Linked DNA regions of Homo sapiens. The protein of the gene in region 3 interacts with the protein of the main gene of each other region in a pairwise test. Each region holds a gene or a part of one and is shown on either strand. Other genes may lie near its edges. The genes, in order: SLC2A9, KASH5, ITM2B and KLRC1.

Region 1 (7,827 bases), on a different chromosome or scaffold from region 3:
CCGAGATCGCACCACTGCACTCCAGCCTGGTGACAGAGTGAGACTCCATCTCAAAGATGATAGATAGATAGATAGATAGATAGATAGATAGATAGATAGATAACAACAACAACAAAACAAATCAAGAAAATGTCCAAGTTTCCATGCATAAGGCCCCTCCTGGTTCTTTCCCCGGCATTAGGGGCCAGAGGATCGCCCCCCACCCCACCCCGGGACTTCCGAAGCCCCCTCTCATCTAGTCTCCCAACGTTCTCCCAGGACACCCGCCCTCCAGCCGCAAGAACTGTCATCCCCCGCCCCTGTCCCCGTGTCATCATTGTCTGTCTCTGTGCCTCCCCTCTCCCCCGAGTGGGGGCTAATCTCTGTCCCCGCGGTGTCCCGCGCCGCGAGCGCAACAGGAGGGGGCGCTGGAGCCCAGGGCCCTTGCGCACCCGAAGGTTTCCGCAGGGCCGCAGCGCCCTCTGCCGGGCCTTGGCGCGCACTCACCGGGGTGGGGGCATTCACCACCGACAGGTTGTAGCCGTAGAGGAAGGAGGAGCCGAAGGCGCCCGCGAGGGAGGCCACGAGGAGCGAGCAGGACCAGTCCTGAGGGGAGAGGAAACCACGTCAGAGCCGGCACCGGGCGCGCAGCCAGGGCCGAGGGAAGACCTGGAACGTTCCCTCAGCTGGGGGAGGCCTTCCGGAGGAGAAGTCTTTGTCCTTGGCTGGGGTAGAGACAGAGAGAAGAGACGCAAGTTGGGGACCTGCAAGTAGGGTTCCAGTCCAGGTCCGCGTGCGCAGGCCGGGCGCCCTCAGGTTTAGCGGCCACGCCCTTGCGTTCCTTCCGGGTTGCGTGAGGATTCCTGAAACGCAGTTTTCAGCAGCTGCTCTGGGCAGCTCCACACGATCCTTTCAGCGAAGTTGGCGAGTGTCCGACCCAGACAGAAAAAAGCAAAGCCAGACTCCAAGCGCTATCAGCCAGGCGTGATTCTAAGCACTTTTCTGCGCATTGTCTCTGAGTCCTTAGATCAGTGCTGTTATGTCCTGTATTACAGGTGAGGAAAGAGGGGCAGGGAGCGTGGCTGGTGCTGTCTAGGATGGGGACTGAAGTCCAGGTGGCCTGGCTGCAGTGCCCCTCTAGTCACCACTGCACTGTCCCCTGCTGACCCGTCACCTGAGTGCCGTTGTCCAAGGGCCTGAGACTGCCGACAGCCAGACAGATGTGCACACACGCTTACATGCACATACTGTTCCAGTCTGAGGCGTCAAACTACAGGGGCTGGTCCAAGCCTCAGGACAAGGACCTGCAGACGTAGAGATGCAAGGTTTGGCACAGAGAACAGGGCGCCTGCCTTGGTGTTGTCCTGCCCTGCAGCCCCATCTAAGGACAGCCACCACCAGTACAGGGCCATAGGGCAGAAACACCTGGATCCCTGGCAAAGGCTGACAAGCTGGCATGAGCCAGGGCAGGAGGGATGGCTGTCCTCAGCTGGTCAGGGAATACAGGCCAAGTGGACAGGGGCCAGGTGCTCCGGAAGGCACCTTCTTTGCCATCATTTGACATATTTGTGAGTGTGTGTGTGTGTGTGTGTGTGTGTGTGTGTGTTGTAGGCGCCAGGCCCTGACAAAGCTGTGGGGGTGCAACAGTGAAGAAGACATATGGATCCATGGTTCAGGGACCCATATCAGTCAAATCCCGTCTGGAAGGGAATGCGGGTCTCTTGATGGCCACTTACCTGCTCTGCCAGTCTCGTTTGTCTCCTCTAGTGCCACCAGCCACGAGATAGAGCTTTGGGGCTTTGAGCCAAGTGATATCAGCTTTACCTCCAGGGCCAGTCCCCTCAGCTGTAGGAGTCTGAGCAAGTGACTTGACTTTTCTGGGGCTCAGCTTGCCCACCTGTGAAATGGGATCTTAATAGCAGCACTGGCCACATATGTTGTTGAGGAGCCTGCTGCAGAGGAGGTGCTCCGTAGAGGCTGCTGATCACATGCGGGGGCAAGAGGGAACATTTATAAGCCTTGGGGATGGGTGCTGCCAATTGAAATGTAGTACCAGAATATTTTTCTGCAGTGAGAGGAGCTTGAGCTGAATGGGGATCCCTGATGGAACAGAATCACATTTCAGATGAAACGCCTGTTCTCTATCACTCTTTCTCTTTAAACCTATCCTCTGAGTCTCGGCACAGATACCACTTCTTCTGAGCCCCTGGGCTGTGCTGGGCATCGTTTCTGTGCTCTGTGCCTTCTTTGCTCCCAGCCCCGATGACCTTAGAGGACACAAACTCCTCCCTGGTCTGCACCCCATCAGATTGGGAGCACCTGGTGTGAAGTGCCCCTGCCAGAGGCTGGTGAAGGGCAGGTGGGGGCCATCTTCTCCTGCCTCAGCTGTGCTCCCCGGAGCCCCCTGCCTGTGTGGCCCGCCTGTGCCCTCCACCCGCTCCCCACTCACTGCACGGGCAGAGGGTGCCCACTGACCGACGGTGCTGCTGCCCGTGCCATGCCCTGGGGAGGGTGAGAAGAGGGACACCACCATGCAAGTGCGGGGCAGGGCAGCCTGCCACCATAGCCTCATTCCATGTACACACCCAGTCTACCAGAGACGCTGTTGGCCCAGTCAGCTGGGGCTTGGAGAGAGCATGCCAAAGTCACACAGATGGAGAAGTGCAACTCAAACTGAGGCCTCCCTGCCTCAAAGCCCCAGATCCCCCAGCTACACGCTGCCAGGCTGGGGCTGAGCACTGTCACACGGCTGCCACCCAGGCCTGCCTTCCCCACAGCCCGCCAGCCATGCAGAAAAGCTGTCCGTAGTTACCTTTCTTCTCCTTCCACCTGGCACCCCACTCCTCAGGTGGTCACACTCCAGCAGTGCCCTCCCTGGCCCTGGAGGCCCGGCGTGGCTGGTGTCATCTGTGAGGGGAACTAGGCCCAGTTCCTTGGAATTCCTATTTTGTTTCCTTGCCATGGGTCTCAGTGACCCAGCTGATGGCTCAGTCCAGGGACCCCAGACTCTGCCAAGGCATTTCCGTGAGTGAGGAGGCAGAGTCCACTGGAAGGAGGGCGGGAGTTCCTGACAGGAAGTGTGGCAATTTGATCATGCCTGAACAGGCAACGGGGCAACATTTTTTTCTCTGCTCCTAAGTTATTACAGCAATGAAACAGTCCAAAAAGGGAAATCTGTCCTCTCCAGGATTGCCACCCAGGGGGTGGAATTTTTTTTTTTTTTCTTAGCATCTTTTTATTTTTCTCTGGTAACAAAGCCTGGAGCAGGGTGACTGCCATTAACCTAGGATACCTCCCTAATGCTTGGAACAGAATGGAGAGGTGGCTGACTTTGACTCAGAAGCCTGCATACAGCTCTGCCCCTGACTCTTCCACTTTTTTTTTTTTTTTTTGACCGAATCTTGCTCTGTTGCCCGGGCTGGAGTGCACTGATGCAATCTCTGCTCACTGCAACCTCCGCACCTGGGTTCAAGCAATTCTCCTGCCTCAGCCTCCCAAGTAGCTGGAACTATAGGCGTGTGCCACCACGCCTGGCTGATTTTTGTATTTTTAGTAGAGACTGTGTTTCACCATGTTGGCCAGGCTGGTCTTGACCTCCTTACCTCAGGTGATCTGCCCACCTCAGCCTCCCAAAGTGCTGGAATTAGAGGCGTAAGCCACCATGTCTGGCCAACTCCTCCACTTTTTAACTGTGTGTCCTCAGGCAAGTCACTTTATTCTCTGAGCTGCAACTTCTACCACTGCAAAATGGAATATTGACCCCACTCTGACTGTCCTGCAGACTTATTCTGAAGCTCAAATAGAAAACAGCCAGCCCCAAGTGGCGTGCTGTAAATGAGTGTGGGCTCTCCTGTAGCCTAGAACAAAGGCGAGGGCTGTGGGTTTGGAAGAAAAAGAATTTGCCTCTTAGTCGTTACTCTGTCCTGCTCATTCAGCACTGGCTGAGGGGACATGTCCTGTATTCCAGCCCCAGGCTGGCTCAAGGACAGTACTGAGAAGGCAAGGGCCTCATGCACACCAGGAGGTTGTGGGAATCAGTTCATCACATGGCCATGTTGCCTCAGACGCCAGAGAAGCACCTTCAATTTTGGCTAGAACAGTTTGCTCCCAGAAGCAGAGAGCAGTGCAGAGTCTGGGCCAGAGCCAGGGACAGGCTTGGTGAATGCAGAACGTCCAGGAGGCAAGGTAGGGCTCAGTCCACAAAAGAGAGATCGAAAAGTTAGCAAAGTACGTTTAGTAAAAAGCACACAATAAAATAAAAGGTGTGGAGTACGGCAGACATTCCAGGAACCTGGAATGTGAAACGCACGTGGAAACGTCCGGCCCTGACATGCACGGTGGTGGGAATGTGGCTGCTCAAAGCAAGTGGGGAATCAAGACTTCCAAAGAGGAAAACCACCCTCAGGAGTTAGGTTGGGGATGTATTGAGCACGCCAGTCATTCAGTGCAATCGTCCTTCTGTGTGTTAATCAGTCAGGCATGCCCCGGGAGAAGTGGCTGTTTCTTGAACTGGATTTCAGCTATGCAGCCTGGTTTCCTCATTGAGTGGTGGGCCTAGAGCAGCATTCTGATGTGCAAATCCTTAATTATAACATGACCTAAAAAGGCGGAGGATTCCCCAGGACAGTGTGGAGGAGGCACCACATCAATCTCAGCTGGATCTTGGAGACCCCGCTGGAAGAGGCGGCTTCTGAGCGGACAGAGAAGGATACGGGGTGAGAGGACAAGGAGCCAAGGCCTGCAGGCACAGATGCCTGCAGTGTGTGGGAGGAAGTGAAATTGTCAGTGAAGCATGGTTGGGGCCTGAAGTACAGGAGATGGGCAGAGGAGGGGCAGGGACAGCTGCATCCCTGTGCATGGAGGGCCCCTCTGCCCCTATGCTGTCCTGATAGGGACTGCATTTTCATCATCTCATTTACCCCTCCTCATCCCATTGCTGTGACTCCCCTCTCTATACCCTCCCTGTTTCCTCATCTGTAACAGTGGGGACCTCACCAGATTTTGCTAAAGCTCAAATTGGATCAGGTGTCCCCTCATCCCGTTAAAAATTGCTTCGTAGTCCTCTGTTGGGTTTGAAAACTCAAAAGGAACCAGAAATTAGGCAGTGGACATGAATGTGCAGCTACAGCTGGACAGAAAGTAAAAGAGCGGAGATGGGTCCCTCCCGGATCCAGATGGTAGCTAACCAGGGTTCCTGGTAGCCACAGCACTTGCCTCACCTTCAGCTCCTACTACATGTGCACAGCTCATGTTACATGTGCACAGGGCTTTCCCAAGTGTGTTCACCTTCATGATATCGTTTAGTCCTCAGAGGAACTATCAGACCTACATTTCGGGGCAACTGAAGTTCAGGGGGAGCATGGAGGAGCCTGCCTCCAAAGCGAGGGCTGGTTCCCCATTCCACAGGGCCATCGGCCCTGCACTGCAGGCAACTGCTAAGGAAGCGACTCCTATCACAGATGAAGTCATAAGACAAACATCCCCAGATGTTCTGGGCTGGGGCACGTTCTGCCTGCTCTGACACTCACTGGTTCCTTCATTCAGTCATTACTTGCCTGTCTTTATGAAGCTCCTACTCATTCAGGTTCTCCTGACCTTGCTCAGGCCCTCACTTCTGACTGCCCTGAACTGTGCTCACCCTTCAGCACTTAACTCTCTCGCCACCTCCTCCCAGCAGCCTCCCCAACCTCTCGCTGCCTCTGTGCTCCATGTGTGCCTTCCCCTCTGCACGTGTGCTGCTGCTCACGTGTGCCTTCCCCTCTGCACGGGAGCTCACTGTGGGCAGGGATGGTGTGCGTCTCAATGGGCTGATTGTGTCCCCTCAGATTCACATGTTGAAGTCCTCACCCCAAGTACCTGACAATGTGACTGTATTTGGAGATAGGGTTTTTGAAGAGGTAATTAAGGTTAAATGAAGTCATATGCATGGGGCTGTATTCCAGTATGCCTGGTGTCCTTATAGGAAGAGGAAATGAGGACACAGACACACACAGAGGGATGACCACGTGAGGACGCAGGGAGAAGGCAGCCACTTCTGCCAAGAAGGGAGGCTTCAGAAGGAACTAACCTGCTGACACTCTGAGCTTGGACTTCTGGTTTCTAAGACTGTGAGACAATACATTTCTGTTGTTTAAGCTGCCCAGTCTATGGGACTTTGTCTTGGCAGCCCCAGCAAACCCACAGTGTCCTAAGCCTCTTTGTATTCCTAGACTTCCTTCAGCCTGGCTCAGGGACAGGGTCCAGTAGATAGGCATCACTTCTGGAACTGACCTTAAACTGTCCTCCGGATGATTTCCTAAGGCTAAAAAGTTGTCTTGGACAAGGTGGAAGTTTTCTAGCAGGGAAGAGTTGGAAAAGAAGGGGGGTTTTCTATTGAGTATCATTTAAGCAGAATGTTTGAAATGACTACATCCCTTCCTTCATTACACCAAATACTTAGACAGTAGATCCTTGACTCACCTAATGTAAGCACCAAGAAAAGATATAGCGTCCACTTAGAGGGAACTGCTGTCTATTTGACATTATTCTTGCGTGGGGTCTTGGGTAACCTCAAACAGGTGACTGCACCCTTATCCTCCATTTCACACCTCTGTGGGGACAATGATGTTCAGCTTGCCAATTTCACACCTTCTTGACAACTTGGTAAATGGACTTGTGTTGATCTCTGTCCTACCAAATACAGGTTTATTATAAATACAAATAAATTTTCCCTGGAGTCACAGTAGCTTCCACACCCATCACAGGAGGTGAGGCACAGATAATCCAAGGTTTAAGAAGGGCTCAAACCTGTACTAGCCACATAGCCTTGGACAAGTGGCTTCATCCCTTTCTGAGCCTCAGTTCATCGCCTGTAAAATAGGGCCAGTGATGCCTTCAGCATGGTTTGATCCAGAGAGAACCATGTAAAGAGTCTCTCTTTAAATGAGAGCCCTATGTAAAGGTCCAGCACAGAGTAGGCACTCTCTGGCTGTTGGTTCTTGAATCAGGTTTAAAAAGAGCATCTGATGAGTCCCAAGAAGAAAGAAAGTCATTCTATTAATAGGAGCTGAGGACTTCCTGGAGGAAGGGGCAGGTCGACTAAGCTTTGTGATGGATTAAGGGGTGGGTTTTAGTGTATCTTTAACGATGATGACATAATCATTGTCAACATCAATGTCCCCTTGTTGAGAAATGACCTTTGTAATGGAGACTTTTGCCCCAAGCCCAGAAAGTCACCAGCAGATCAGGACTGTCAATTTCACTCTTCTGAGCCTCATCCCAGACACTCTACAATCCCCATGGCTCCTTCCCATAGAACTTGGCTTTCAGCTGCTGCTCACTCTTTTCTCTGCCCAGCTTCACCTTAACAGCCTCCCACTGACCCAGGGGAAAGGGGTACTACCCCCTGGGTGACCGGAATAATCATGTAAGGGAGACAGAAAAAAAAAAGGACTGACCAATTTCTTTTTCGCTGAATCACTTTCTTCATCTTCTCCTCGGTCCTTTTTACTGAGCTTCATGGTTCACTTTTCAGGTTTTGAACTTTTGTTGTTATTGTTTCTGAGAAAGAGAAAAAGAAAGAAGCCATTAGACAGCTGCTTTCTCAGATGTGCAAGTCAGGGGAGGTGGCCTGGAGCAGTCTTCGAAAGGTTTGCTGTGAGGAGCTCTGGCTGGGATGCCAGGATAGGACACAGCAGCATCCTCGCTTGGGCATCTCCCTGCTCTCCTCTGTCCTCAGTTTCTCTATTTTTGAGTGCAGGGCTTCCCACACTTGCCTTGTTGATTATTAAATACAGGCAATGATCCCATTCCTCTTCTGCATCATCAATTTATCTCTCTGTGTTGGATCTCCCCGGGCTATGTACAAAA
Region 2 (7,022 bases), on a different chromosome or scaffold from region 3:
TCAGAAGGTCAAGACCACCCTGGCCAGCGTGGTGAAACCCCGTCTCTACTAAAAATACAAAAATTAGCCAGGTGTGATGGCGTGTGCCCGTAATCCCAGCTACTCTGGAGACTGAGGCAGGAGAATCGCTTGAACCTGGAAGGCGGAGGTTGCAGTGAGCCGAGATCACGCCATTGCACTCCAGCCTGGGCAACAAGAGTGAAACTCCTCTCAAAAAAAAAAAAAAAAAAGAAAGAAAAAGGAGCACAAACTTTCTAGTATGAGATGATACTGAGTTATTGTTAATTTTGTTAAGTATGATAGTGGTATTGTGGTTTTGCTAAAGGAAATAAGTCCTCAAGTAGGAGATAAATGCTGGAGTAACTACAGGTGAACTAATATGATGCCTGCAATTTGCTTTAAAGTAATCTACTTAAAACATCTGGAGGAGAGCCGGGTGCGGTGGCTCACACCTGTAGTCCCAGCACTTTGGGAGGTGGAGGCAGGTGGATCGCCTGAGGTCAGGAGTTCAAGACCAGCCTGGCCAACATAGTGAAACCCCGTCTCTACTAAAAATACAAAATTAGCTGAGCGTGGTGGCACATGCCTGTAATCCCAGCTACTTGGGAGGGTGAGGCAGGAGAATAACTTGAACCCGGGAGGCAGAGGTTGCAGTGAACCAAGATCATGCCATTGCATTCCAGCCTGGGCAACATGAGGGAAACTCCGTCTCAAAAAAAAAAAAAAAAAAAAAATTAGCTGGGTGTTGTGGCAGGTGGCTGTAATCCCAGCTACTAGGGAGGCTGAGGCAAGAGAATCACTTGAACCCAGAAGGCAAAGATTGCAGTGAACCAAGATCGCACCATTGCATGCCAGCCTGGGCAACAAAAGCAAAACTCTGGCTCAAAAAAAAAAAAAAAAAATCTGGAGGAGAAACATCTCAGTTTAAACAAAACCGAGAAAATGCATATAATTATTGAAGCTGGGTGATAGATAATGTGGATAACAGGCTGCTTATATTGTTCTTTTGATTTTAAAATTGGGGATAAGAAATGAGTCAACACATGCAAAATGCTCAGTAAGTGTTAGCGATTATTAACCTATCTAATCTTTACAGCAATCCCATAAAGTAGGTCCTAGTTAAGCTCCGTTTTTTTGTTGTTGTTTTTTCCTGAGACAGTCTCGCTCTGTCGCCCAGGCTGGAGTGCAGTGGGGCGATCTTGGCTCACTGCAACCTCCGTCTTCCCAGTTCAAGTATTTCTCCTGCCTCAGCCTCCTGAGTAGCTGGGATTACAGGCACGCACTACCATGCCCAGCTAATTTTTTTATTTTTAGTAGAGACGGGGTTTCACCATGTTGGCCAGGCTGGTCTTGAACTCCTGACCTTGTGATCCGCCCGCCTCAGCCTCCCAAAGTGCTGGGATTACAGGCGTGAGCCACTGCGCGTGGCCTAGCTCCATTTTTATAGATGGGGGAGCCACACTCAAAGAAATTAAAGCTGTGGTCCCACTGGAATGGTTGGAGGAATTAAATGGGTTAAAACATATGAAGTGCTTAGCATGAGGCCTGATGTATATCAATCAAGTGTTTAGCAAATATCTGCTGTTAATTTTGACATTACCACTTGCTGGAATGAACGTGACCAGCCATTCCTTCTTCTAGAACGGGAAGCTGCTTGCCGAGCGGGATGGAGTGAAAAAGAGAAGTCAGGAGCTGGCCATGGAGAAGGACACTTTGAAGGTGCCACTCCTTCCTAGTGCCTGACAACTTTCCACCACCCCGGGGCCATTTTTCCCATTTCCGGTTTTAGTGACTGCAGCCTGATAAGGGCAGGGTCTTCCATCAAGCTGTCAGGCTCCCAGGACCACCCAGGCATCCCTAAAATCCCTGAAGTCCTGGAACATCTCAGGAGGCTGAATACGTGGGGGTGCGAGAGAACAGGTGGGGCCAGGTGGAGGGCAGGACCAAGGGGAGTCCTGGGAGGCTGGATGGATGGACCGGCTCCTTTCTTGGCAGCGGCAGCTCTTTGAGTGTGAACACCTCATTTGCCAAAGAGACACCATCCTCTCTGAGGTAAGGGGCCCCGGGAGGGAAAGAGATTCGCTTTCCATGTGCACCAGCCACTTCCTGCCCCTGGTCTAGAAAGGGAAGTCCTACTTGGGTCTGATCCTTGGATGTGCAGCTGGAGAGACTGGAGGGTTTCCCCAGGTCCCAAGTGTGACCCCTCAGGGATCTAGAAGCCCTTCTGCCCGGTGCTCTCCCTTGTGCCCCAGCTCTTCCCTCAAGCTCACCCTGTCCCTTAACCCCCCAGCCAGTCCCCCCGCCACCACCACCCCCAGTGTCTTTGGGGAACTGGTCCCAGTCTCATTTGGCTTTCGGCTTTCCTAGCGCACTCGCGATGTGGAGAGCCTGGCCCAGACCCTGGAAGAATACAGAGTGACGACGCAGGTAACTCAGCGGCCCTCGCCACCCACCGCGGCCCTCGCCACTTCTCTTTTGCCATCTCTGGGACTTGCTGCCTCTCCTCCTCGTGCCTCTTTGTCAGTGGCCACATCTTGCTTCTTCCATCCTTGATGTATGACTGTATGACTGCATGTCTCCCCCTCTGTTTCTGTATCTGCCTTTTCACTTTTTCTCTGTTCCTTCCATTCACTTTCATTCTCTGTGGGTGTCTTCTCACACACCTCCTCTCCTTATCTTATTTTTTTTTTGAGACGGAGTCTTGCTCTGTCGCTAGGCTGGAGTGCAGTGGCACAATCTCGGCTCACTGCAACCTCTGCCTCCCAGGTTCAAGCGATTGTCCTGCCTCAGCTTCCCAAATAGCTGGGACTACAGGTGCATGCCAGCATGCCCAGCTAATTTTTGTGTTTTTAGTAGAGACGGGGTTTCACCATGTTGGCCAGGATGGTCTTGATCTCTTGACCTCGTAATCCACCCCTCTTGGCCTCCCAAAGTGCTGGGATTACAGACGTGAGCCACCACACCCAGCCTCCCCTCCTTATCTTTATGTGTCTCTGCGAGGCTCGTGTGGGTTCCTGTCTCTGCCTCTAGGTCTAGGCTGTCTGTCTCCCTAGGCAAGTCTTCTCTGTTTGGCTCTGGTCTTTACCAGTCTCTTAGCCCTCATGTTTCTCTTGCCTGTCTGTGAGTCTGTTTCCATCTATGTCTCATTTTTTCATGCATCTCTGCCTCTGCCTTCCTTCTTTTAATTGTCTTGGCTGTGCTTTTTTTTTTTCTTTCTTTTTTGAGATGGAGTCTGGCTGTGTCACCCAGGCTGGAGTGCAGTGGTGCAATCTCGGCTCACTGCAACCTCCACCTCCTGGGTTCAAGCGATTCTCCTGCCTCAGCCTCCCAAGTAGCTGGGACTACAAGCGTGTGCCACCATGCCCGGCTAATTTTTTGTATTTTTAGTAGAGACATGGTTTCACCCTGTCAGCCAGGATGGTCTCGATCTCCTGACCTTGTGATCTGCCCGCCTGGGCCTCCTGAAGTGCTGGGATTACAGGCATGAGCCACTGCGCCTGGCCTCTTGGCCTGTGCTTTAGCTTCTGGATTCCTGTTGCTCTCTCTCTTTGGCTTCCTAACATTCTGTCATGGCTTTCTTCCCCTTGTCCCTAGGCAGTATGTGTCTGGGGAGCCCAAAGTAGTCAGGAAAGGGGAAAGAACCCTGGAAGAGGAGCCCAGAGGTGGATGGGAGGGTGGGAAAAATGCAGAGCCAAATGTGCTCCCCACTTCCTCCTTTGCAGGAACTGAGGCTGGAGATTTCACGCCTGGAGGAGCAGCTGAGTCAGACCTATGAGGGGCCCGATGAGTGAGTGGAATTTCAAGGGGTAGGAGGAGGCAGGAGGGGAGCCTAAGGGCAGGGACACCCTGGCCTCCAGCCCCAAGGTGGGCAGGGAAGGGAGGCCAGCATGAGCTGACTGAGTGGCCACCAGGCACAGAGGCCATCTTCCTCCCTCCTTCCTGTGTGGCCAGGCTACCTGAAGGGGCCCAGCTGAGAAGAGTGGGCTGGACCGAGCTGCTACCCCCATCGCTGGGCTTGGAGATCGAGGCCATTCGACAGGTGGGCCTAACACCCCTGGAATAAGCTGCAGGCCACCAAGGCAGAATCTCCAAACATCTCCCTACTCTGATCCTCACACCAGCCTAGCCCTAACCCACATTGCTGCCAGAGGCTCCTATCGCAACCTTAGCTTTTCTCTAACTCTCTCTACCTCGGATCCTAACCCCAAACCCACTGCCAGACCCAGGCCTGTGCCAGACCCCAGTCTGATCCAGCTTTGACTCACCCCTATCTCGTCTCCCTCCATGACCATCTCACTCCTTAACTTCATCTCGAACCTAGACCTTGGTCCTGGCACCAAATCCTCCCCTGTTCCTGCTTCTGCCCACTCCCCAACCCCAGCCCCACACCAGCCCTTTTCTATCTCTCATCCTATTTTCAGCCGCACACCTAAACCTATTTCTATCTCTGACCTTGTTTTCTACCTTAATATGGCTCTCCCTGACCTCGGAAACAACTTCTGTCCCAGAAACAGGAAGTGGCAACTGCTGATCTCTCCAACCCTCTGTGTGGGGTGTGGCAGTGGGAGGAAGTCATCCATGAGACCAGTGAGGAAACTGAGTTTCCATCTGAAGCCCCAGCTGGGGGACAGGTGAGCACAGGAAAAGCTCTGAAGTCCAGGAGCTGGAAAGGGGCCAGGAGCTCCAGGTGCCGCCCTGGCCAGCCCATTCACTCACACTTTTGCTTGTTCCCCATTTGATGAGAAAATGTTAATTGAGGGCCCAGTGTGTGCTGGACACCCAGCCACAAGCCAGACCAGACACCACCCCTACCCCAGGGACTGACCTGCCAGCGTTGTAGACAAAGGTGAACCAAGCAAACACACAAGTTGCACTGTGGCTTTTATTGTTGGTTTGTTTTTTAGAAAACACTCTTGGGAATTACATTATTTAAAATCGTACTACTGTAGGAAGGGAATAAGTAAGTTGTTTATTCCAGCATTTTAAGGATATATTAAGCATTTATGTTTCAAATGTTAGCACCTTTAAGAAAAGCCAGCAAGCTCACTATGACATCTTTAACTCAGCAATAACCATTGGGGTTTTTTTTGTTTTTTGTTTTTAGAGACAGGATCTTGTCTTATTCTGTTGCCAAGGCTGGAGTGAACTTGACTCACTGCAGCCTCAATCTCCTGGATAAGCAATCCTCCCACCTCAGCCTCCCAAGTAGCTGGGATTACAGGAACACACCACCATGACTGGCTTTTTTTTTTTTTTTGAGATGGAGTCTCACTCTGTCACCCAGGCTGGAGTGCAGTGGCACGATCTCAGCTCACTGCAACCTCCACCTCCCAGGTTCAAGCAGTTCTCCCTGCCTCAGCCTCCCAAGCAGCTGGGATTACAGGAACCTGCTGCCACACCTGGCTAATTTTTGTATTTTTTTTAGTAGAGACGGGGTTTCGCCATGTTGGCCAGGCTGGTCTTGAACTCCTGATCTTAGGTGATCTGCCCGCCTCGGCCTCCGAAAGTGCTGGGATTACAGGCATGAGCCACCATGCCCAGCCTTTTTAAAATTTTTTTATAGAGTTGAGATCTCACTGTGTTGTCCAGACTGGTCTCAAACTCCTGGGCTCAAACTGTCCTCCTACCTCAGCCTCCCAAAGTGCTGGGATTACAAGCATGAGCCACTGCACCTGGCTTTTTTTTTTTTAATTAATTAATTTATTTTGAGACGGTCTCACTCGCTTCTCTGTTGCCCCGGCTGGGGTGCAGTGGCATTATCACAGCTCACTGCAGCCTCAATCTCCCTGGACTCAGGTGATCCTCCCATCTCAGCCTCCCAAGTAGCTGCAACCACAGGCATGTGCCACCATGTGTAGCTAAATTTTCTATTTTTTGTAGAAATGAGGTCTCCCTGTGTTGCCCAGTCTGGCTGAACTCCTGGGGTCAAGTGATCCGCCTACCTCAGTCTCCTAGAGTGCTGGGATTACAGGCATGAGCCACTGCTCTGGGCTCTCTCTCTATTTTTTTTTTTTCTTTTAAAGAAAATGTTGTAAACAGCTCTATAAACAAGCTGTATTGTCTTGAGAACTGCACCACTTCAAAGCTCTTTGCCATCCTTAAGGAGAGACTCATTTCTCTGATCACTTTTTCCCTGGTTTGAGAAAAGCTTTTGTTTCTCTTTGACACCAGAGCTTGTTTGGGTTCTCATTTAACTCTCCCAGTATCTCTGTAAGGCAGGCATCCTCATCTTGTTACTCATGGGAAACTGAGGCTCAGGGAGAAATCACATGCCAATGGTCACACAGCTTGTTGGGGACAGAGCCTCATCCCTCAGAAGTGTAGGTTAGATTGGGCTTCTGCTTTGAGCTGTCAGATGCCCCTGAGAGACAGGCTTGTCAAGGGGAAGACTGAGCCAGGCCTCAGAGTGCAACCTGCGATGGGCCCAGGGATACAGAGCTGAGTCCCTTGGGGCCGGGCCTCTCAGTGCTCAAGGCCTGATAGGAGAGACCCTGCAAATGGGTTGCCCCAGTGCAGAATGATCATTGTGCTAGAGGTGGGGGATGGGCCTGTGGGAGCCCAGAGAAGGGGTATCTGTGTCAGGTCAGAGATTGGGGAAGATATTGAAGGAAAACTGATACTTGAGTGGAAGGAAGGAAGGAAGGAAGGATGGAAGGAGGGAGGGAGGGAAGGAGGGAAGGAAGGAAGGAAGGAAGGAAGGAAGGAAGGAAGGAAGGAAGGAAGGAAGGAAAGAAGGAAGCCAGCCTTTGAGGCACTAGCACAGCCTGTGCAAGGCCTTGGCATAAAATCACGATATGCTTGAGGAGTAGAGGGTAACTAGGGGTGACTAGTGAGAGATGAGGCCAGGGCCAGATCATGAAAGGAAATCTCTGACAAGCTAACAGATTGTACTTTTCTTCATAAAGCCACAAGAAGGGTGGGGTCAGCTCCGGGCTTAAAAAGATCCCTCTGGAACCATGTGAGGGACCTACTGGAGGCAGGGAGGAGGCTGGAGCAATGGTGATGAAGCCTGAGCCAGGCCA
Region 3 (6,674 bases):
ACAGTGCCTTTTTTGAAACCTATCACTGCTATATGTTAGCAAGCAAACACTGATCTTGTTTTGTAATGTGTAATTGTTCACTTCTGCTTTCCCTGTATCCCTTTTTAGATTCCACACCCATATTAGTGAGAAGCAAGAAAAAAAAATGTACACAGTGTCCTAAATGTTGTTTATCTCGAATAATAGAAGTAGGAGTGTAAAACTTAAAGGCTGATTAATAATGCAAATGAAAAGGCAAATGGATTATTGAATAGAAAAGGTCTAGATTCTATGTTTGAATGTGGTTATGAATTAATATGGGCAGAATCTCTAAGATTCTGCTAAGTGAACATTTAGTAGTTTACTAGACATCTTCTCTTCCACCTAGCAAAGAGTTTGTTGCCCAGAGTTATATAAATCCTACTCTATTGCACACTAATCTTTGCATGTTTAACTCTTTGGGACTTAGGTTCCTAGATAAGGACTTCATGTGTATCTATTTAGAAAAAGAACATTTCTTCATTTCCACAAAGCTACACAGCCATCAGTTCGTTCAATATCTTGTCCAAAGTTATTGCTAGCGTTCTTCTTTCTGAGTCTTTGTGGCTAATGCTTTTTTGAGGAAGAAGCATGATTTAGTCTCAGCTCTCTATTGATCATTTTAGGCTTTTATCTTACTGAAAAAATTAAGCACAATTTAAGATTTTTTTTGAAATATTTACTGAATTTTGAGGCCATAAATTATTTCCTGATAGCACACATGTATGGGTTGTAGATTCCACACTTTTAATCTTCCAGCCACCTATTGCAGATTGGTTCTGAGAAGCAGGATGAGTGGGAGTGGGCTTAGGGGTCAAAATTGAGACCTAAGTGGTATAAAACAAGATAATCCTAGCTTCCTCCCACTTAAAATAATTTGATGGGACTTCTGTATCTGATTTTTAAGCTTGCATTTGTGTTTATATTTTCATTGTAAAAATATCAAATAATACAGTTTTTGAAGGTAAAAAGTAAATGTTCCCGCCCTTCTACCATCCTCCTTCCTCAGTCCCATTCCCCAACAGTTTAACGTGCGATACAATAATGTGTGACACAAAATGACCTAGTTCTTGCCCTAGTGACTAAGCAGATGCAAACGCCTTCTTCTTTCCAAACAGTGTGGTCTTATCCCCGTCGCAAATGGAGGATATTTAAGAAACCCAAGCCAGAAACCCCACAGTCTTCACAGTCACTGTGTCCTCCACCTCCTAGCAGCTTCCTGCTGTTCTGCTCTAGTGGTTCTCTCTGCTTCCCCACACCCACCCGTAAGCCACAACAATCTTTCCAAAACACGAACTTGATGGTTTCATTGTCACACCCCAGCTTAAAACACTTTCCTGGCTTCCCCTGGTTCTTAGGATAAAGACCAAAATACTTAATGCTGCACAGTCCAGTCCCAACCCACTCTCCAGCTTCATCTTAATCACACCCCTCTTTGCTCCTAGTGTCCTACCACATTGCCTGACTTACTGTTTCTTGGTAAATGCTATTCTTACTTCCTGAAGATTATTTCCATCTCCTCACCCGACACCCTTCAGTTAGCTTCCACTCAACCTTCAGAATTTAGTTCAGGTGACCCTTCCTCAAGAGAAGATTTTCCTGAACCATTAGGAAAGGCTTCTCTTGTTTCTCAGTCTCATAGCATCATCTGTCTCTTTTTTGTGACTTGAATATAATTAATATTTTATATTTTGTCCTTGTTGCTTGTTTGGTTAATAGATTTCCACCACTAGACTGCTCAATACGTTAGTAGGGCACCTGACACATAGTTGCAGCTCTTATTTATTGAATGAATGAATGATTCCTTCCCGTACCACCCTAGTCTTGCCCACTGTCATTTTTATTCTGGGTATTATATTTCCCAACCAGTTGTCTGACTTTCTCCTCAGATCTCATCCCCATGGGTCTGAGTGAGTTGCCTTGAATATAAGATTCAGTGATGGTGTCCTGCTGCACTTAAGAGAAAATCCTTTTTTCAAGCCCTAAAATCCTGCCCTCACTAGACTTCTCTCACCATTTCTCTGTTTGCATCCTAGCCTTTTAGTTTTGGCCTCATATAAGCTTGCAGCCCTGCCTGAAACAGTTGTCTCTGTCCCCACTCTACCCCCTGCCCTCCACAAAGAAAAGTTAACTCTTACTCATCTTTCAGATCTCAGACTAAAAGTTTCCTCAGAGATGCCACCATAGCTCTCTATTTCTCATACCTTTCATGATACTTCATCACCTGTCTTCATGAAGTCCTCCTCTAGACTATTAGCAAAATGCTCATACTGTGTCCTCAGTATTTGGCACATAATAGGTTTTCTTGACACTGAAGGAAGGAATAAACATCTGGTAACTATAGCTAGAAAAAAAGGAAATACGGTATCTACTTCACTAAAACCAAAGGGGGTTTTTTTGGGCAGACAATCTTCATTATTCAGATGGAAATTAATGTTTGTTGAATGAATGAGCTACATTTCATGGATTAACTCCATGAAATGGAGTTCAGCTAGTAAGGGTTATACTTTGAGGCTATTTCATCTTGATGGGCTTGTTGTTCAAAGTTAGAGCCTCATTTTAAGTAAAATGTTCTGTGGGGGCCATATTAAGATTTTCATATGACAGAAGTGTATATATATCCACAAATGTTTCAAGCCAAGATTATGTCTTCTTCCATAATGCCACCTTCTTCTAGGATAGTATTTTTGGGCCAGATGGTTTTCCACATTTAAAACATACCAACATTCTTTTAAGGCCCAGTGATTATCAAAAGGGATTGGCACTACATTTTAAAATGTAGGGGGGATTTTTGATTGTCACAGGACTAGAGGATGCCATTTGTATTTAGTAGATGAGGCCAGGCAGGATGCTAAATGTCTTAAAAGTCCGGGAGTCCTGCACAAAAAATTACTGCCCTTCTTGATTTGCCAATTATGCCCCTGCTGGGAAGCATGAAAGGAGAGAGAAGAGCTTTCAGAATGTCAGGGATAAATATATCCATTAAGCCTTCAGACTAAGATGCAGGAATAGTTTTCCATTTGGGTATGAATACGGCAAGTTCTTAGAACATTTCTTAAAACATAATTAGCCAAATACTAGTGTAACAGCTACAACTTATCTAGTTTTAATCAACTCCAGGGAACATTACACTTTATTTAACCCCTAATTATCTGATAACCCAAGTTCTGTCAGAAACACTGCTGAGGCATCCAGGAAGATGAGCCTGTGAAATTTGAGAATCCTTCATGTCTCTGGAATGAGTCCCTAGATTCTAGCCCTGCAGCTAGCTGACACTCTAAAAAATTATGAGTGCCTTCCTTTAGCTCCCCATAGAAATGTCTTTGTATAACCATGGCATGATATTATTCTCTTGACTTTTGTTGAGGATTGATAGAAATAAAAATGAGCCAGAAATGTTTCTTCAGCTTTTGTAAAGTGCTGTTAAAAGCATTATGTCATATCTAGTACTTCTTATCTAAGTATTTTAAAATTTAGTGTTAGGAAAATTTTTTTCACATAGGATACATGTTAATATTAGGTAGTACATCTAAAGAATTCATTTGCTTCCCTTTTGCCTTGGTTGCTGGGAAACTCAGAGCCAAACTCGGTGCTTAGATTAATTACTTTCAGCCTAGGTTTTTCTGTATATCACCCTTTCGGTAGGGCTTGAAGTAACCCTTCAGTTTGCTCATATTTTGTTGTGAGTTTTATAGATAGTTTACATGCAACGAAATGCATATATCTTAAGTGTTCAACTCAGTGAGTTTTGACACTTTTCTTTGTCCATGTTAACAATCATCAAAACATTTTCATTGCCCCAGAAAATACCATTGTGCTCCTTTCCGGCAAATATTCCTTCCCTCTGCTAAAACTACTTTTTCATTTCTATGACCATAGTTCAGTTTTTGGCTATTCTTGAACTTTATTTGAATGGAATCGTACATATATAATCTTTTTGTTTGGCTTTTAAAACTCAGTATAACGTTTTGACATTTGTCCATGTTGTTGCATGACTCAGCAGTTCTTTCTTTTCAGTTGCTGTGTAGTAGTCCATTTCTTTTGGTTTTGTGTGTGTGTGTGTGCTTTTTAAATTTATTTTTTATTTTTTTTTTTTTGAGACAGAGTCTGGCTCTGTCAACTCAGGCTGGAGTGCAGTGGCATCATCTCGGCTCACTGCAATTTCTGTCTCCCAGGCTCAAGCCATCCTCTAACCTCAGCCTCCCGAGTAGCTAAGACTCTACAGGCGTATGCCACCATACCTAGTTTGTTTTTGTTATTTTTTTTAGTACAGATGGGGTTTTGCCATGTTGTCCAGGCTGGTCTCGAACTCCTGGGCTCAAAGCAATCCACCCTCCTCGGCCTCCCAAAGTGCTAGGATTACAAGTGTGAGGCACTGTGCCCTGCCAGTATTCCATTTTTTGTGTATACCACAATTTATCATTTTTTTCTGTGTAGGTATTTTCATTGTTTCCAAGTTGGGAAGTATGAATAAAGTTGCTATGAACATGCATGTACAAGTCTTTGTAGATAGCTCATGTTTTAAAAAGTGTTTGTTTAATGATTTCATTGCAAAATCATCTTTATTGTAAACATATCTTTTTGAGGGTAGATTGGTAAAATATACATAATAAATACATGACAATGCAGGAGTCCAAGTATTATTAGGTTTACAGTCATAACAAACACCAAGAACCATTTATAAATTTCAGTTTCTCATTGTTTTAGAATGGAAGGTCTAACCAAATATGTAATGTATCCCTTCAAGTAAACTAGTATAACTTGGGTACCTTCTCATATAAATTCCCCTTAAGGCATACGTTGCTGTCTTTTCCAAATTCCCATTTTGCTTGTCCAATAGGCATTATCAGATACAACATGTTCAAAGGCAAACTTGATTTTCCTCCCATGGTTTCCTCATCTCAGCTCCTTTTTTTTTCCAGTTGCACAGGCTAAAAATAGGAAGTCATTCTAGATTCCTCTCTTTTTCATAAACCTCACATCAAATCCATCAGCCAATCTGGTGTGCTCTACCTTCAAGATACGGATTATCCAGAATTCAGCCGCTTCTCACTGTCTCTACTGCTAACATAGTAGTCAAAGCTGCTATCATCTCTTGCTTGGATTGGTGCAATGGCCTCACAACTGATCTTCCTGCTTCCATACTTGACCCCTAGAGCCTCTTCTAAACAGAGTAGCTAGAGCGATCTTTTCTAAATCTAAGCCACATCATGTCACTCCCCTGCTCAAATCCCAACATTTTATTCAGAATAAAAGTCGAACAATGCCCTACCTGTAGGTAATCTAGGCCTCCAAAGCTCTTCTTACATCACCTCCTGTAACTCTCCCCCTTTCTCACTCCTCTACAGCCACACAGCTGCCTCACTTTCCTTTGAACGTACCAAGGGCAATCCTGCTTCAGAGCCTTTGCACTTGCTGTTTCTGGGCCAGGAATTCCACACCCTCCTTCCCTCACATGTATCCCAAGGCTCACTGCCTTCCTTCAGTTAAGTCTGCTGGAATGTCACTTCATTAGGTATTGCCTGATCACCTTTTCTAAAGTGAGTCTCACCTCCACCCTCAATGCTGGCAATGTCTGTCTGTAGTGTATTCTTAACAATACAGATTAGCACAATGCAGGCCAGACCATGAAGACTGTTTCAAGTTCGAGGATGGGCAAAAATAATGACTAGGACTTGGCTCAAGATTCCTCAAACAGCCAATAAACAATGCAAAGAATAAATGAGAGAGTAATTGGAGACAAGCTTTCCCTTGGCTTCCCTTCTTTTCTCACAGAGGCTTTTCCAGAAGGTGGTCATTTCCATAGCCCATGTGGAATGAGATGTCCACTAGGGCAGAGAAGCACAGAACCGTGGGCACTGCTTCCCTTCCTTTAACCCTATCATATTGCTGCCCAGTGAGCAATATGGTCATTGGTCAAGAAGGCTTATGCCCAGGTATCCCTGTGGCTATGAGCATTGCTCCTTATCTATGCCTCTGCTCTTAGACTTTTCCATTCTGCCCTCTTAGGGGCCTTCCTGGCCATGACCACACTACCTTATTTTTCTCTATAGTACTTATCACCATCTGACATGTATTTATGTTTGTATTTGTTTATTGTCTGTCTCTACAAATAAAATGTAAATTCCCTAAAAACAGAGACTTTATTATTTTTGTTCATGTTACATCCTCAGCACCTAGTAAAGCACCTGGCACGTATTAGGAACTCACTAAATATTTACTGAATGAACTTTGTTCAATAAATTTAACATGGTTCTATGTAGCCTCCTTTTTAAAAATTGGCTCTGTTATATAGACTTCAGGGGCAACTGATAACAAACAAAACCAAACTTGGCTTTTTTCCCTTTTTTTTTTCTTTAATTGTAGTTTCAGAATTTCATCTGGGAGTGGGAATGGCCACAGGAATGCAAGTTCTGTACACCTCAGATTTGGTGCTAGTGATGTTGCCATGTTAAGAAAGTGAGCTGGGCCTTGTGCCTTCAGTAGACAGAATCAAAATCTATTACTTTATTTTAATACCCGAAGTTCAAATTACCTCTTAGGTAGGGATCCCTTAAATGTGATAGTGCTGAATCACAATGGAGGAAAAAAATGGCAAAGAGTATATTGAAATTCAGACTGATTCACAGGTAAAAGGCCTCTTGGAGACAACACTC
Region 4 (7,837 bases), on a different chromosome or scaffold from region 3:
TTCCACATTTAGTCCAAATATATACATTACAATGAGAACTCTATTCCCTGAAAATATGAAATGTTTAGAGGCACATTCAATCATTAACGTGAAAATTCCCCTTGTAATCTTCGAAAATAGACTTACAGGGAATAACAACTATCGTTACCACAGAGGCCATTAAGATAAGACAGATAATTCCCAGGATCCCAACAATGAGCTTCTCTGGAGCTGATGGTAAATCTGCAGGGAGAGAAATGGGAACAGTGCGAAAGGAGAGGTGGATACAGTCGTTTAGAAGATTCACAGACAAGAGAACCTGAATGCACAGGAATCATACAGAGAAACTTGGACCCCAAACCCTCATCTCCCATTGTAATCTTTTTCTCAGAATAATATACCATTGAATTTTCAGGAAAAATAATGCTCCATGAATTATTTGACAAAGACTACAAACTTCAACAATGAGTTCAATCAGTCTTCATACTTTACATTGAAATAGCATATCTCAACTTGGAATTCTGATCTTTGCAAATAGAAGATATATGAGCACTCCCTTCTCTTTCCCCACATTCCTGTACCCCAAGCTGCACATCCTAGACTGTTATATTGAGGATCTTTTAAATGCTTTACCTTTGCAGTGATAGGTTTTGTCATTCCCTTGAAAATCCTGAGAAGCTTTTTGAAGGTTTAATTCCGCATAGGTTATTTCCTGTTCAGTTGCTAAAATGGAGTTTTTATTGCCTTTAGGTTTTCGTTGCTGCCTCTTTGGGTTTGGGGGCAGATTCAGGTCTGAGTAGATTACTCCTTGGTTATCCATCTCTGCAGTGTGTGATGTCAGGGACTGTACTCTATAATAACAGTAGTTAAGAAGTTAATAAATGGTTTATATACAGGATTCCCTAGTGCAATTAAAAGGGTGAGGTGGAGAACGAGTATTGGAGCTCATTTTGCATTAAATAATCTAAAGTTCTTTCTCTGATTTTCTTCAAGCCTAAACACGTTTCTTATGAATATTTGTTTTAAAAAAAGATTTTTAGGCCGGGCGCGGTGGCTCACGCCTGTAATCCCAGCACTTTGGGAGGCCGAGGCATGCCGATCACGAGGTCAGGAGATCGAGACCATCCTGGCTAACACGGTGAAACTCCGTCTCTACTAAAAATACAAAAAGTAGTCGGGCATGATGTCAGGCGCCTGTAGTCCTAGCTACTCGGGAGGCTGAGGCAGGAGAATCTCTTGAACATGGGCGGCAGAGGTTGCAGTGAGCGGAGATTGTGCCACTGCACTCCAGCCTGGGCGACAGAGTGAGACTCCGACTCAAAAAAAAAAGATAAATTTTCTGCATTTGACAAAATATTATTGCTGGGGCAATGAGAAGCAATAAATTACTAAGGAATAAAGAAGTTCAGGAATAAAAATATATTTCTTAAAGTCTGATGTTTTACCTGTGTTAAAAATTAAAATGTTGTATTAGAAAAACTTCTGCACTCATTTTTATGTTAATTTTGAAATCCAGTAATGGTTAAGACTATGTGGTCTGCACATGAGTAATAGTAAAGTTGACATATATATATATAAAAATTTCTTGCACTACATTACTTTTAATTAGTAATTTATACACATTAATGAAAATCAATAGAGGTAATTAAATGGTCTTTTCTTAATGGCTGAAATGTTCTAAGAAATTATTAAAAATTATTTATTAAAAATTATAAAAAATTAAATATTTGTATATGACAGAAAATGCTATGTGACACAGTTAACTTATGCATAACCTAAATAGTATTAGGAACACTACATAAATTGTTAATACTTACAGAAGTATTGGTAATTTAATTAGTAATTGGTAATTTATTTCCTGGCTAAATTATGAACCAAAAAATGATAAATAAAAGTATAGGTAATTCATGTTAAAGCACATTTCATTTAAACTTATAGAATGATTTTATGGTTGTCAAAGTGAGTAAAGGCCACTTTAGTTGTATAAGTACTTGTAAAATTTCAGATAATGTAATTAAATCATTTAGTCAATGGGCTCTGGAGTCAGTGAGATCTAGAATTAATTCTAGCTTTGACACTTATAATGTGCGACCTTTAAAAAGTTATTCTATTTTTAATAACCCAGTTTGTTAATCTAAAATGGGCATAAGAACATATAAAACGTTGCATGTAAAACATTTACCACTCAACCTGGCACTTAAAGTTCTCAATAAGCATTAGCTACTTTAATTATTATTTTAGTCACAATTGTTATGTTACTGTTTCTGATTCATGTCAGTTAAAGCATGGAAAATAAATCTTCAGATAAGTCTCCTATGTCCATGCGCTACATCTTTTTTTGCAATATTTTGATCAATTTTTAAAAAGTATTTTTATTGCTTTGTAATACCTTTAGCATTTTATGTAATCTACCTCATTCTGATTTTTATTAAAAATAAAAACTGCTTTTCTCTAATCTACGTGTCTGAGGAATTGTATTTGGCTTTCATCAATTGATTGATTTATTTTAATAATCTTTAATGGCTAAGCTAAATATAAATTATTATTCAAAGATACATGATGTACTGATTACAAAATACAAAATTAATTGTTCATTATTGTGATGTTAATAGCTTTCCCTTAAACGATATTGATCAACAAACCCACTAGATTTCCACAAACAATAATTTGAAAACTTTAAGAAATCCTTCAACATATTTCATATTTTAGGTTTTTACCCTGAGTTATTCAAATGAAGACAGCAATATTCTACTTTGATTTTATTGTATATTAATTATACCTCCTTTGTATCATATTGAGCACTTGAAATCACCCACTAAATGAGGTAGGCTAGTAGAGAGTTGGAGAGTAGCAATACATACCTTCTGTCCCCAGAAAGTCACACATCCTTTAGTGGAGAGGCCAGGTTAGTCTCATAAAAAGGCCTGCTATAGCTGTGTAATAAAAGGTGAAATTTAAAGGCATAAATCCAAGACAAGAACAAACAATGCCTGCAATCTTCGCAGACTGCCCTGTGAAGGCTCAGAGTGAGTCAAGAGTGGAAAAAGTAGATTTCTCATCAACGTGTTACTAAGGTTTGAACAGGAAATTCTACACATGGGCTATTGTGAAATCAGTTTTATCTCATCACACACCTCCAAAATATAGGATACTTGGTCTATTAAAAGTACAAGGTTGACTTTGAAAGTGTGTCATTTAGTTGGTTCATTTTTCAAGTGCCTATGAGAATTTTTTTTTTTTCTGTCTTGATCACGAACATTGTCAACCCTCACCTTGTTAAGAGTGCCTTTTAGACTAGGTTGCTAAATCTTAACATTGCATACTTCTTTTCTTTATATTATTTTATTATGTCACTTCCATTATAATAGAAAACATTCTAAAACTCATAGTAATATTATCAACTGATATCTACTGATTTTTTCCTTAATTATTCTGAAAAATTACTGCAGTAATTACTCAATTGATTGTAGCTGGCACAAAAAGCATCATTGCCAAAGTTATATTATTAACTTCTCTTAGTTCTTAAATTTTTGCACTTAATTTTTAAAAATAGATTATTTAATCTTCAGATTACCCTTGATAAAAATATCTTGGATAGGTAAAATATTAATCAATTTTGAAATATATTAGCATACCAGAAATTGAAATATTAAATAGCTATTCATTACATTCTTCATTTATTCATCCTCCGCCATAACAAATTATGTCGACTTTCATAGAAATATTTAGTTGTAAATGACAAAAACTGAAGTCAAACTATGTATGGGGAAAAAGTAATTTTAAAATCTTACTAGGAGGAAAGTCAGTAAATTGGCAGAATAGGTGGTCCCCCACACATATGCCCCCACAGCAACAATAATTTTTCAGCCATCCACAGACAAAAGTTCCTTTGAGGGAGTTTGGAATTCAAGTAGGAGTTTGTAAAATGCCAGTGGAACCCAAGACCTAGGAAGGTTGTTTTAGGGAATAGATTTGCATCCAAGTGGCAGACTTACCAACAGTGATTCCATCTCCAGACCTGAAAAGGGACCCATCCTCCTGTGCTTGCCTTCAGCCCCATTTAGGCCTTGGTCATGCTGCCAAAACCATTTGCCCAGGGGCCCAGGAGGAGACTCACACACTAGTGTCTCAGGAGGTAGGCATATCAACTGTAGTCTCAATGTAGACCCTGAAACAGCCCTCTAACTTGGCTTTAACTAGTGTCAGCCACAACTTGAGATCAGTCCTTCACCCACAGAGACTTCCTGGGAGACATATACATCTGTACCTCTGGGGCATGCTTGCTGACCTCTGTCCTACAGAAGATACTAAAATGGCCCTGAATCTCCACTCAAACTCCTCTCAACTGTGACCTGAGTTAATCACAGGAAATTGCTGTGAGACTCAATCATCTTTGTCAGCAGTACAGGCTTGCTGACTTCAGTTCCACGGTAGTTTCTGAAACAGCCTTGAATCTTGACCTTCACCCTTCTCAGCTGTGGACTGTGAGCAGTCTTGCCAGCTCAGGGATACAGAGGGAGGACATGTGCATCCATGTCCCAACTAGGAGACCATTGACCTAGGTTTCACAGCAGATCCTTTAATTGGACAGAAAAGGGGCTTCGACACTTCTCAGCTATGCTAGAGAGCAGTTTGCCCATACAGGGACCTGGAGAGAGACATCATTAGTGCCCCTGCAGGCACAGACCTTAGTTTTATTTCAGATCTTGAAACAATTCTGGATCCAGCTCCAGCCCAACTCAACTACAGTCTGAGGCAAATCTGCCTGCCCACAGACCTGCCAGAAAACACACTCAACCATGACCCCAGAGACAGACATGAAGACACTGGTTTCAGCTATAGACCCCGAGGAAACCTTGTGACTTAGCACTAACTCCTCTGTGCCACAGGTTGAGGAACCCACTCAGAGACCCATGAGCAGCCTTCCCAGCAAACTAGATAAACTCTTCCCCAACTACACACCTAATAATAGACCCACCATTTACAGACCTTGAAGTGGACCCTCATCCCCTCCCCAGCCCTATACAGTATGATTCTAGAGCCAGTTTGGCCCTCTGAGGCACTAAATAGGATACAAGCCTGCTAGAAGCCCTAGTAAAAGGATCATGAACCAAAGATCCCACTCTGGACCCGTAAGCAACCATGTGATCTGGCTGTAACCCCATTCAACCATGATACTGAAGGCAATCTCATCAGCCCAGGACACTAACAGGAGAAGCTTTTAACCTACCGAAACCAGTCTGTAAAGACTGAAAGAGAGTCTGCTCTTTCAAATGCACAGACATCAGTACAAGGATAAACAAATAACAAAGCATCAGACAAATATGACACCACCAAAGGAAACTAATAAAGCTTTAGCAACTGATCCAAATAAATGGAGATCTATAAGTTTCCTTTAAAGTAATTCAAAACAATCATCTTAAAAAATCTCAGTGAGATGCAAAAGAAAAGAGTAAACAAAAAATACAACTAAAACAAAAAATACATGAACAAAATAAAAATTTAATAAAGAAATATAAACTATTAAAAAGAACCAAACAAAAATTCTGGAGCTGAAGAACACAATGAAAGAAATAAATAAGTCAATAGAGAGTTTTAATGCCCGACTCAATCATGCAGAGGAATTAGTGAACTCAAAAAAAGAGTCTTTTAAAATTAACAAATTAGAGTAAAAAAAGAATAAAAAGTGGCAAAGAAAGCATGAGACCTTTGAGACACCACCAAGAATATGGTATAGAAAGTATAGAAACTTCAGAAGGAGAAGAGAGACATAAAAAGTCAAAAATATTTTTTCTTTAAAGACATACTGTCTGAAAACCTTCCTCACTTGGGAAGGATATGGAAATCCAGATTCATGAAGCTCAATGAATCATGAGCAAGATCAGCCCAGAAAAGACTATTATGAGGCATAATATAATCAAATTGTCAAAAGTCTAAGATAAGAGAATCTCGTGGGGGGGTTTTGTTTATTTTTTAGCTTAATGTGATCTCGTTTGTCCATTTTTGCTTTGGTTTCCTGTGATTGTGGGGTATTACTCAAAAAATCTTTGGCCAGTCAACTGTCCTTGAGAATTTTTCCAATTTTTTTTCTTTCAACTTTTATTTTTAGATACAGGGAGTACATGTGCTGGTTTGTTACATGGGTATATTATACCAGAATAGTGAGTATAATCCAAAGTAGGTAGTTTTCTGAACCATTCTTCCCTGCTCTCCTCTCCCCTCTAGTAGTCTGCAGTGTCTTTTGTTCCCATATTTACGTCTAAGGGTGCTCAGTGTTTAGCTCCCACTTATAAGTGAGAACCTTCAGTAGTTGGTTTTCTGTTCCTGCATTAATTTGCTTAGGATTATGGCCTCCAGCTCTGTCCATGTTGCTGTAGAGGACATGGTTTTATCTTTTTTATGGCTGAGTACTAGTCCATGGTGTATATATGCCACATTTTCTTTATCCAGTCCACCACTGATGAGCACATAAGTTGATTCCATATCTTTGCTGTTGTGAATAGTGCTGTGATAAAAATGTGAGTGCATGCGTCTTTTTGATATAATGATCTATTTTCATTTGGTTATATTCCCAGTAGTGCAATTGAGGGTCAAATGGTAGCTCTGTTTGAAGTATTATGAGAAATCTCCAAACTACTTTCCACAGCGGTTAGGCTAGTTTACATTCCCACCAATAGTGTATTAGCATTTTCTTTTTTCTGCAGCCTCATCAGCATCTGTTGTTTTTGGACTTTTAAATAGTGGTCATTCTGACTAGTGTAAGATGGTATCTTACTGTGGTTTTGATTTGCATTTCTCTGTTGATTAGTGATGATAAGTGTTTTTTAATATGCTTGCTGGATACTTGTATGTCTTCTTTTAAGGAGTGTCTGTTTATGTCCTGTGCCCATTTTTAAATGAGGTTATTGTTTTTCCTTGTTGTTCTGTTTAAATTCCTTATAGATTCTGGATATTAGACCTTTGTCAGATGCATAGTTTGCAAATAATTTTTCCCACTCTGTAGGTTGTCTGTATATTTCATTAATAGTTTATTTTGCTGTGCAGAAGCTTTTTAGTTTAGGTCTCATTTGTCAATTTTTGTTTTTATTGCCCTTGCTTTTAAGGACATAGCCAAAAAATTGTTTGCCAAGGCTGATGTTGAGAAAGGTATTTCCTAGGTGTTCTTCTAAAATTTTTACAGATTGAGGTATCACATTTAAAATTTTAATTATCTTGAGTTAATTCTTCTATATGGTGAAAGGTAAGGGTCCATTTTAACTCTTCTGCACATGGCTAGACAGTTACACTAGTGATACAGGAACGAGAAAGAAATTATTTAGGCAGATAGTGAGGGTAAAGGAATTCTCAGCAAGGCTTCCCTTTTAACAAAAAGCAGCCCCAAATAACTTCTTTTCTAACAAAGAGCAGCCTGAAAAATGAAGCAGCAGACATAGATAAGCAGGCTGGAGACTTGCATGTGTGCATGCTGGCAGCTGTGCCAATAGAAAAGGGGCTGACTGGAAGCCAGGCATTTTCAACCTGGAGGCTCCATCTTCCCTTTTCTTTGTCACTAATAAAGAACCAGGCAACATGGCACAGGCCAGGTAGACAACCATCTGCATAATAAAAGACTAGGGTTGAGTGGCCAGCTTCTTTAAGCGCTATGCAAATGGCATGCCTAGTCCGACCAATCTTTCGTGCCCTATGTAAATCAGACACTGCCCCCTCAAGCTCATCTATAAAACCTTCTACATTTCACTGCAGAAGCAGCAACCCATTTCTCCAGTACCCATCCCTGGGCAGAGATCTCTTCTCTTTCTTTTGCCCATTAAACTTCCTGTCTTAACCTCACTCTGGTGTGTTCACGTCCTAGTTTTCT

The links.
Region 1: the proteins of ITM2B (region 3) and SLC2A9 interact in binary tests that used the Homo sapiens proteins (3 or more experiments, as listed by UniProt).
Region 2: the proteins of ITM2B (region 3) and KASH5 interact in binary tests that used the Homo sapiens proteins (3 or more experiments, as listed by UniProt).
Region 4: the proteins of ITM2B (region 3) and KLRC1 interact in binary tests that used the Homo sapiens proteins (3 or more experiments, as listed by UniProt).

Annotation. Positions count from the first base shown.
Region 1 is NC_000004.12:10,018,489-10,026,315, forward strand, and holds the start of SLC2A9 (solute carrier family 2, facilitated glucose transporter member 9), read right to left. Parts: upstream 3,010-7,827; 5' UTR 2,942-3,009; coding exon 2,792-2,941; intron 2,778-2,791; exon of another isoform or gene 744-2,777; intron 586-743; coding exon 487-585; intron 1-486. UniProt on the Homo sapiens protein: High-capacity urate transporter, which may play a role in the urate reabsorption by proximal tubules. May have a residual high-affinity, low-capacity glucose and fructose transporter activity. Transports urate at rates 45- to 60-fold faster than glucose.
Region 2 is NC_000019.10:49,405,245-49,412,266, forward strand, and holds part of KASH5 (protein KASH5), read left to right. Parts: intron 1-1,641; coding exon 1,642-1,719; intron 1,720-1,995; coding exon 1,996-2,052; intron 2,053-2,367; coding exon 2,368-2,427; intron 2,428-3,722; coding exon 3,723-3,787; intron 3,788-3,951; coding exon 3,952-4,039; intron 4,040-4,508; coding exon 4,509-4,631; intron 4,632-7,022. UniProt on the Homo sapiens protein: As a component of the LINC (LInker of Nucleoskeleton and Cytoskeleton) complex, involved in the connection between the nuclear lamina and the cytoskeleton.
Region 3 is NC_000013.11:48,264,205-48,270,878, forward strand, and holds the end of ITM2B (integral membrane protein 2B), read left to right. Parts: 3' UTR 1-6,153; downstream 6,154-6,674. UniProt on the Homo sapiens protein: Plays a regulatory role in the processing of the amyloid-beta A4 precursor protein (APP) and acts as an inhibitor of the amyloid-beta peptide aggregation and fibrils deposition. Plays a role in the induction of neurite outgrowth.
Region 4 is NC_000012.12:10,450,358-10,458,194, forward strand, and holds the start of KLRC1 (NKG2-A/NKG2-B type II integral membrane protein), read right to left. Parts: upstream 3,021-7,837; 5' UTR 2,841-3,020; intron 831-2,840; 5' UTR 800-830; coding exon 613-799; intron 223-612; coding exon 127-222; intron 1-126. UniProt on the Homo sapiens protein: Immune inhibitory receptor involved in self-nonself discrimination.